Linked DNA regions of Homo sapiens: region 1 is linked to region 2. The links come from fine-mapping of genetic effects on gene expression. A gene starts in region 2. The other region holds a variant in brackets. All regions are shown on one strand. Distances are between the middles of the regions. Region 1 overlaps LONRF2 (LON peptidase N-terminal domain and ring finger 2). Region 2 holds the start of LONRF2 (LON peptidase N-terminal domain and ring finger 2).

Region 1 (4,392 bases), 33 kb before region 2:
TAATTTTGAATAATGTTCAATGGCTGCATGCAATTATATATTTGAGATACATGCCAATTTACTTAACTATTCACGTAAGTTATTTAGAATATTCTAGCTTTTTTATTTTTAAAAATAACACAATAATATAAACATTTATGGAAAAGTTGTTTTGTTTTGTTTTGCTTTTTTGACAAGGGAGGGAGGTATGGTTTCCTCAGTGTAGTTTCCTAGAGACCTTGACAGAATTACCAAGTCAAAGGGTGACATTTTAAAAATTGTATTCCATATCACCAAACTATATTCCTAAAGGCACGACAGGGCAAGACTACACTCATTACATTGGCCTGGGCTGATGGACTCCAGCTTGTGGTCGGCCACAGCACCTTAGACTGACCAAGCTTGGCCTCTGGTCCCTATGTCACTATCACATCTGTCATTTAAATTACGCCTCAGTCCTGTTCAGGAACACCTGGTAGAGGAGGAAGAGCATGGGACTGGGAATCACGGGGCCAGGGTTTGGTCTGGCTTCATCACCAACTCTCATGTGTGAATCTAGCCAGTCTCACAGCCTCGTTAGGGCAGAGTTTTCTCATCTGCATAATAGGAATAAACCATGAAGGTCCTTTCCTGTTACAAAATTCCAGTACCTACAAAAACTACGGTGTGCTGAGAAATTATAATATAATGCATATACCACCCTCAATTTGATTTATACAAATCAAATATTCATATGTGATAGAGGATTTTCTTATAAAAATAAGCTAAAATTATTTCATGTTGTAGCTATTTAAGCCCCCATTTAAAATAAGCGCATACACTATTAAAAGCTGTCATCTACAACAACGGTCAATAAACCCTGCCGTCAGGTCTATCCATCCCACAGAGAGACCCTGAGAATTATCACTTTCAGCTGTAGCTTTGAAACCCAGCTTTCTGGTCCAGCCTGGGAGCTGGGCTCCCTGCTCTGCTCCCATGCACTGGGATGACCAGAAACAGCAGCTGGAGGAGGCACAGAGACAGTGTCCTGGGTGTGACTCCATTCACAAATCCTAAGTGTACACCACTGCCCCCAAAATGACTTCCAGTGTGATGTGGGGTGGCTACGTACCCTCACTTCCACAATTCCAAATGTCAACCAAAGAATTTAAAAGAGGGATACAATAATTCCAAGGATTTCCTCCTTTTAAGTATTTTAAAATTTCTTGCTGCAGTATAATTTACAGACCAAAAAGTGCATAGATCTTGTTGAGCTCAAAGAGTTTTCTCAACTGTATACACCAGTCTGACCATCACCCAAAACCAGATAGACATTTCCACTACTTAGAAAGATTCTTCACCACTCCCTCCAGTCAATTACAAAGCCAACCCCACAAGCCTTTTCTGACTTCTGTCCCCAGACTCTAGTTTTGCCTGTTCCTGGAAGTATACAGATGAAGCCACGCGGTATGTGTTCGTCCTGTGTCTGGCTTCTCTCACTTAGCATAATGTCTGTGAGAGTCATCCATATTGTTTCATGCACGAGTGGTTCATTTCTTTTTATTGACAGGTAGTATTCCATTGCATGAATGGACCACAATGTGTTTACTGACTCAAGTGTGATCAGCACCTGGGCTGTTCCTGGTTTGGGGCTATAATGGAGTAAGACTGTTATGGACATCCTTGTGTAAGTCTGTTGGAGAATCTCTCAAAACATTTTGCTAATTTGTCAAATTATATGTCCTGATATTTCTATTAGACACATGAAAAAATTCTTAAGGGTTAATAAATTCAAGTCTTTTATATTTAGCTTTGGGAGGTATTTTTTAAGTTGTAGATTTTGTCACATTCTGAATTAATACCAACCTAGAGAACAGGGACTGACAGACTGCTGTTCATGAGTCAAACCGTGCTCACCA[CCAT/C]GTTTCCGGAAGTCACATTTAACGGAAACCAGTCATGCTCATGCCTTTACACATTGTCTATGGCTGCTTTTGCACTACAAGGGCAGAACTGGGTAGCTTCGACAGAGACCACATGGCCTCTGGAGTCTAAAGTACTTATTAGCCGGCCCTTTACAGAAAAAGTTTGCCAGCTCCAGGGCTACAGCATCAAATACAAATCAAAAGCCTATTTTGCAATGCGCAGGTTTACATGTTGCATAAGTACAATAAGGTCTTTTTTTTTTTTTTTTTTTTTTTGAGATGGAGTCTTGCTCTGTCGCCCAGGCTGGAGTGCAGTGGCACGATCTCAGCTCACTGCAACCTTCAGCTCCCAGGTTCAAGCAATTCTCCTGCCTCAGCCTCCCAAGTAGCTGGGACTACAGGTGCCCGCCACCACACATGGTTAATTTTTTTATATTTTTAATAGAGCCAGGGTTTCACCGTATTAGCCAGGATGGTCTCAATCTCCTGACCTCGTGACCTGCCCACCTTGGCCTCCCAAAGTGCTGGGATTACAGGCGTGAGCCACCATGCCTGGCCAGATCATTTTTTTAAAAGGAGATTTCTGTACCAGCTCCCAACTCAGGTAAAAATCCACTGAGAAAATAAATAACTGCTGAAGGCAGGGGCTCATGCCTGTAGTCACAGCACTTTGGGGCTACTACACTTTGGTTGAGGTGGGAGGACTGCTTGAGCCCAGGAGTTTGAGACCAGCCTGGGAAACACAGGGAGACTCTGTTTCAACGACAAACAAAATTTAAATTAGCCATGTGTGGTGGTGTGCACCTACAGTCCCAGCTACTCGGGAGGCTAAAGCAGGAGGATCGTTTGAGCCTGGGAGGTCAAGGCTGCAGTGGGCCAAGATCATGCTGCTGCACTCTAGCCTGCACGACAGAACAAGACCTTGACTCAAAAATAAACAAATAGATAAATAAATAACTTAAGTGATGAATTAAGGACTTAAGTAATATTGTCAGTACAAGTTTGACAAAGCTTTTCCACAATGCAAAGGGAAGCGAGAGGACCGACTGCTATAAAATACACCAGTATGATAAGCCTTACCTTTTCATCTTCAAGATATTCAATGTCCGCTGTGTTATAGCCATCTCTGTGGCGGTGGCTTAGCACTCGGAACCGACTGATGCCAATCGCGTCTACAACAGAACTTCCATCAGGAAACGTTCTCACGTCCTTAATCTCCAGCATGCATCCATACTCTGAAAGCCTGAAAAGACAGTTAGGAGAAATGACTGTGATTTTTAAAATGCAGGGGGCCTTCTTTTTCCCTGGATGAGAGTTTACTTTTAAAAGGAATACAAAGCCACACAAAACAGTGTCTCCACATCAGACCAGCAAGGTTATTGTCGCTAAGAGACACGTGCACATGGTCGCTTCTGTTAGATGTTAAATATAGTGGTGATGGTGGCTGCAGGGGAAGGGCTCCAGGTGAGACAGGACTTGTGCCTTAGCGGTTCCAACGGGCTAGTGTTTTGGGAAGGACCCGAGAGATGGGAAGAGATGAAATCTCAAATGTGGCTCCTCAGCCACCTTGGCGGGGCACCATCAGGACTGCCCAGCTGGTGCCACGCACACACTCGGCTTTCCAAAGCTCTCCCCAGCTCTTACCCACACTCCGATTGTAACTATCACCCTTATCCTAGTGATATTCTCATGCTACCACGTGCCAAGCAACACACGGAGCAGTTTATAATACATATGAATTCAAGCCCACACTTAAAATTTGATTCATCAAAAGTCAACAAAGTGAAAAAACAAGCTATGAGTTCCATGTGCACTGAGAATATAGAACACTAAAAAGAATGTGAAAAACGACAAGGAAAACCAGATAAACCACAAAACATATGTCTCTTGAACCCACCAGAGGGTGGAGATTGCTCAGGGTAACCAAACAAAGATCCCACAGGGAGAGAGTAGGCAGAACCCAGGAAGAGACACAAAAGTGTGTAGGAAGCATTCAGCTATTTTTTTTTTAAACAAATTGCCAATGACCTTGTGTGGGCTGGCACCAGAGTGCAGGTCTGGAGAGCTGCACTCACAAAGGGAGTTTGCATCACACACAGGATCCTGTCCACAGATAAGAGCCTCCTTGATGAGTCATGCCCTGCAGTGAGGCAGGCTTGGAGGAGCTGACGTTTATCTGGAGGCCTCTGCTGGTGCTGGTTGCTGGGGCAGCAAGTCCTCCACCTTCAAAGGCACTCCGCTCCTCCTCCCTCCTGCCTTCGCCCACAAGGTCTTCACCTCATTCCAATTCTGCCAGCTCTGCCCTCCCCAACCAAAGTGCCGTGGAAAGCAGTCCCCGGCCACTGCCTTCATCTCCTTGCCTCCCCCTCACTCCTCCATATCCTACCGTTCCATTAAAATGACTCCAAAAGAAGTCAGAGATGCCCTCTGAATTGCTCAAATCACTTGACAGGCTCCTGTCTGACCTCCCTAAGGCACGGCCCTGCAGACTGTTGCTGAGCTAATGCTTCTG
Region 2 (4,392 bases):
GCAAACCGTCCTCCTCACACTGCCCAAAACAACTGCCAATAGAGCGCATACTCATATGTCAAAGCCAAAACGATGACAGAAGTTTGGTCTTCCTTTCAGCTAAATAGTGTTAACAGGTGGTGGCTGGGTGAAGGCAGGAGAGTGCCTGTTGCTGGCCTTAGGCCTCAGATAAATAAGGAAATGACTGAATGAACAATTTAAAACTACACACACTAGTCAGTGTAACTATCTAGTAAGTTAAATACGCCATGACATCTAATGATGGCCTCTGAGACAGAGAGCAGGCTAGAGCCGGAGCGTTTGACGTGATTACAGCAGAGTGGAGGCGGTTCCTTCCTGGCTATATTAGCTGAAACCCAAAGCAAATCTTGCCCCAGCACAAGGCACCCCTTTCTGCGCCTGTAGTGTGTCAGCTATGTGCATTTTCCTTCAGGATGAGCAAAAATATTTCGTCATCCTCCCCGCTCCTCAACAGCGCAGAAGATGCCGAAAAGCAATTACAGGACCTTACAGAGCTGCTCCGGGGGCCGCGGGAAACTTACCAGCATCCTGGAAAAGACAAAACCAGTGGGGTGCACTTGGCCTCTCCTGGCTGCAGGGTGTGGCCGCCCCCACCTTTCACCTTCCCATCCTTAGGAAGCAAAGTGACCCCTAAGCCTAGACAAAGCTCTCGAAAGCCCAAAGCCTCGGGCCCACCGGCCAGCTCCCCACCCCGCTGCTGGGCCGGACAGGTGTAGGGGAGGCGGACCCGCCCCGCAGCCGACTCACCCAGCTCCAGGGCCTGGTCGCACCTGAGCAGCGCGGCCTCCGGCTGCTGCTGGCGCTGCAGGCTCCGCGCCTGGCCTGCCAGCCTGCGCAGCCGGCACTCGGCCGGGAAGCACTTCTCCAGCAGGCCGCTCAGCACCACGTTCACGCGCCGCACCTGCGGCCGCGCGGGCCCTGGCTCCACGCAGCGCTTGCAGACTGTGAGCCCGCAGGGCAGCGTCACCGGCTTATGCAGCAGCCGCCGGCAGCGCGGGCAGCCGAGCAGGTCGCGGGGCGCGCGGGGCTCCGGGGCCGGCCCTCCCTCGCCGGGCGCCTCGGGCTCGCCGCCCGGGTTCTCCGCGGACAGCGGCCGGTCGCGCAGGCCCACGGCGCGCACCAGGCCGCCCGCCAGCTCTTCCAGCTCCTCCGGCCGCAGCGCCCCGAGCCGCGCGGCGCCGCGGAACGCGCCCAGGGCTTCGGGGAGGCGGCCGGCGCGGGCCAGCGCGTCCCCCAGCCTCAGGCACAGGCCGCGGTCCGGCTGCGCCAGCCCGGCTAGCATGGAGCGAAAGAGCTCGGCTGCCATCTCGTAGTCGCCCGCGCGGAAGGCCTCGTCGCCCTCCTCTAAGCGCTGGGCGATCGGCTCCGCGCGGTCGCAGCCAGGACACTGGGGCGGCGGCGGCGGCGGGACCGGCTCGGGGCTCATCACCGCGGGGCTGCGACGACGCGGGTCCGGAGCGAAGGCGCGGAGCAGGGAGGATGCGCTGCTGCTGGGAACTGGCCGGCGGGAGCGCGGTCTCAGCCCTCGCCAGCAGCCACGCGCGTCTGGGGGCGGCGCGCTGCGAGCGGCTGAGACCGCGGGCGGGGGCGGGCGCCTGGCTTGGGCAGCGTCCTCAGCGCGGTGTGGGCGGCGAGCCCCGCAGGGCTGCAATCGTTCCGGGGTGGGGGCCGGGACAGGCACCGCGGGCGCAATCTGAGCCCCTGCCCACGCGCAGCGGCCTCTCAGTCCCGCCGGCTTAGGTAACCCAGGTCGCTGCGGTAACGCAGTGACCGCGCTCCAGGTCCGCGTCTCTTGCGATGCTTCCCCCACTCGCCTGAGGGCTCCTGCGCGACTGCGCGCGCGTCCTCTGCCTGCCGCCTCCCCGCAGAGGTGCCGGGGCCCTGGGAGCAGGTGGCCTTGGCCGCGGGCTGCTGGCGCGCCGGCACCGCGGCACCTGCTCTTCCCCAGAGGCCTGGCCGCCCCCACAACCTGTGGCTCCGCTTAAGCAAGAACCCAGGAAAAGTCACCAAACGCATCACGCATCTCTAGCTTCGACTTAGGAAATTGTCCTAAATGACTGGGGAGGCTGAAGTGGGCACCCAGAGGCCCCGCCTCAGCGAGCTTCTTCTCTTAACTCTAGGCTGAGGCCTTTGAGAACTCATTTTAACAGAGAACGTGGAGGGCCAAGAGAACCAGATACCAGGAGGAGGAGGGATTCGAGAAGTGGACAATTGTATTGTGCCCTTGATTAGGAAGCAGAAATAGAATTAGAAATAGAATTCTAATTAATAGAATTAGAATAGAAATAGAAAGGGTGCCCTAGTATGGAGTACTGCAGACATAAGTTGCTGGGGAGAGGGAGCTAAACGCTCCGTTGGTGTACAAGCAAGGTTTAAATTAAAATCCTCTGTGCGTATTAACCGGGTTCATAATTTCTCCTATATAGCCTATGTATTTCTCCTATGTAGCCTGCTCCCTTCTTCCTGTCGTCACAGTATCTGTTTTATCCTGTGTATTTGAATACAATAAAATGCATTACAATATTCTAGAATTCATACTACTGTTCATATTTCAAGAATAAATTTTTTTAAAAAATTGGAGAGGTTTTTCTACATCTAAAACTGCTGGCTAAAGAAAATATACAATACCTCGACCACATCTGGCTTTGGGAAAGGAGAAATGCCTCATTAAGTGAGAGAACATTTTAGACCAGTTCCTAAAAGGGAAAAAGGGGCAATTTTTGGCCAGCCCTCTAGTTCTACAATAAACAAATGCAGAGTACCCACCTCCTTTTCCATGAAGGATTTCCCCCAGCTGTCTACCTAACTTAATTGATAACAGTGTACTGTTTGGGTCTCTTTTTCATTACTGAATTATTTCAAATTCACTTTTTCAATCACTGTTTGGATTTTTATCTGCTTTCTTTATAGAATAACAATTCACTTATATTTGAGGGTCATTTATCCATCAAATTCACAACCAACAATCAGGAAGCAATGGGGAAAAAGCTTCAGAGCACAGACCATACAGTAAAGATTGTGAAACCTTATGATCTCAGATCCTATTTGTTCTTATTTTAGACAAATATCTAGCAAGAGAACAGAAAGAAGCTTGCCGGAGGTATGCCTGCTGAGAGCCAGAAGTGTTTAAAGCAAAAATGTTAGTGTGTTGTGAGGTTTATAACACATAGAAATAAAATATATCACAAATATAACACAAAGGCAGGTAGAGGAGAAATGGCAGGATACTGTTGTAAGGTTCTAATGCTATATGTGAAATGGTATAATGTCACTTTAAGAAAGACTGTAATGAGTTAAGGATGTGTCCTCTAACCCTAAAGCAACCTCCTAAATAACACAAAGAGCTATAGTTTAAAAGCCTATAGAGATGAAATGAAATTGTTAAAAAAAACTCTATTAATCCAAAAGAAGGCATAAAAAGAGAGGAAGGAAACAATTAGATAAAACAAATAGAGAACAAATAGCAAGATGGCAGGTTTAAACCCAATTATATCGGTTAATGTTCATTAAATATTGTCTAAATACCATAATTAAAAGGCAAAGATTGTCAAAAGGAAGACCCAGATATATGCTGCCTACCAAAAAAGAACTTTTAAATATGAAAATACAAATAAGGTAAAGGTAAAAGGATGGAAAAAGATGTTCTAGTTAACTCTAAGCAAAATAAATCTAGAGTGACTATATTGATAGCTGACAAAGTCTATTACATAGCCAAGAACATTGCTAGGAGAAAGGACAGCCATTTCATAATGATAAAGGTGTTAGTTGGTCAAGAGGACATAATAGTCCTAACCGCGTGTGTTCCCAATAACAGAGCTTTCAAATATTTGAAGCAAAAACTGATAGAACTGTAAGGTGAAATAGGTAAATTAATAATTATAGTTGGATATTTAAATATCCCTTTTTCACCATAAAAAGAACAAGATCATGTCCTTTGTAAGGACATGGATGGAGCTGGAAGCCGTTATCCTCAGCAAACCAACACAGGAACAGAAAACCAGATGCTGCATATTCTCACTTATGAGTGGGAACTGAACAATGAGAACACATGGACACAGGGAGGGGAACAACACACACTGGGGCCTGTCGGCGGTGGGACCGAGGAAGGGAGAGCATGAAGAAAAATAAGTAATTCATGTGGGGCTTAAAACCTAGGTGATGGTTTGATAGGTGCAGTAAACCACCATGGCACACGTTTACCTATGTAACAAACCTTCACATCCTGCACGTGTACCCCAGAACTTAAAAATAAAACACCCCTCTTTCAACAATTAATACAAGTATACTGAAAATCAGTGAGGCTATAGAAGACTTGAGCAATTCTACAAACCAACTCAATCTGATTGATGTTTATAGAACACTCCACCCAAC

Evidence for each region. PIP is the estimated chance that this variant, and not a neighbour inherited with it, causes the effect.
Region 1: its variant is fine-mapped to the expression of LONRF2 in blood mononuclear cells (TOPMed, PIP above 0.99). The same link has a PIP of 0.9 or more in T cells.

What each region holds. Positions count from the first base shown.
Region 1 is chr2:100,287,298-100,291,689 of GRCh38, forward strand. It overlaps LONRF2 (LON peptidase N-terminal domain and ring finger 2), which reads right to left. Exons shown (of 12, transcript NM_198461.4): 10 at 2,961-3,123. Among named protein-coding and RNA genes, the nearest start is that of LONRF2, 33 kb to the right of the region's middle. RefSeq lists an enhancer at 3,634-4,274. The variant CCAT/C (reference allele first, on the strand shown) is at 1,878.
Region 2 is chr2:100,320,647-100,325,038 of GRCh38, forward strand. LONRF2 (LON peptidase N-terminal domain and ring finger 2) reads right to left here and starts at 1,855. Exons shown (of 12, transcript NM_198461.4): 1 at 769-1,855. The coding sequence starts at 1,447.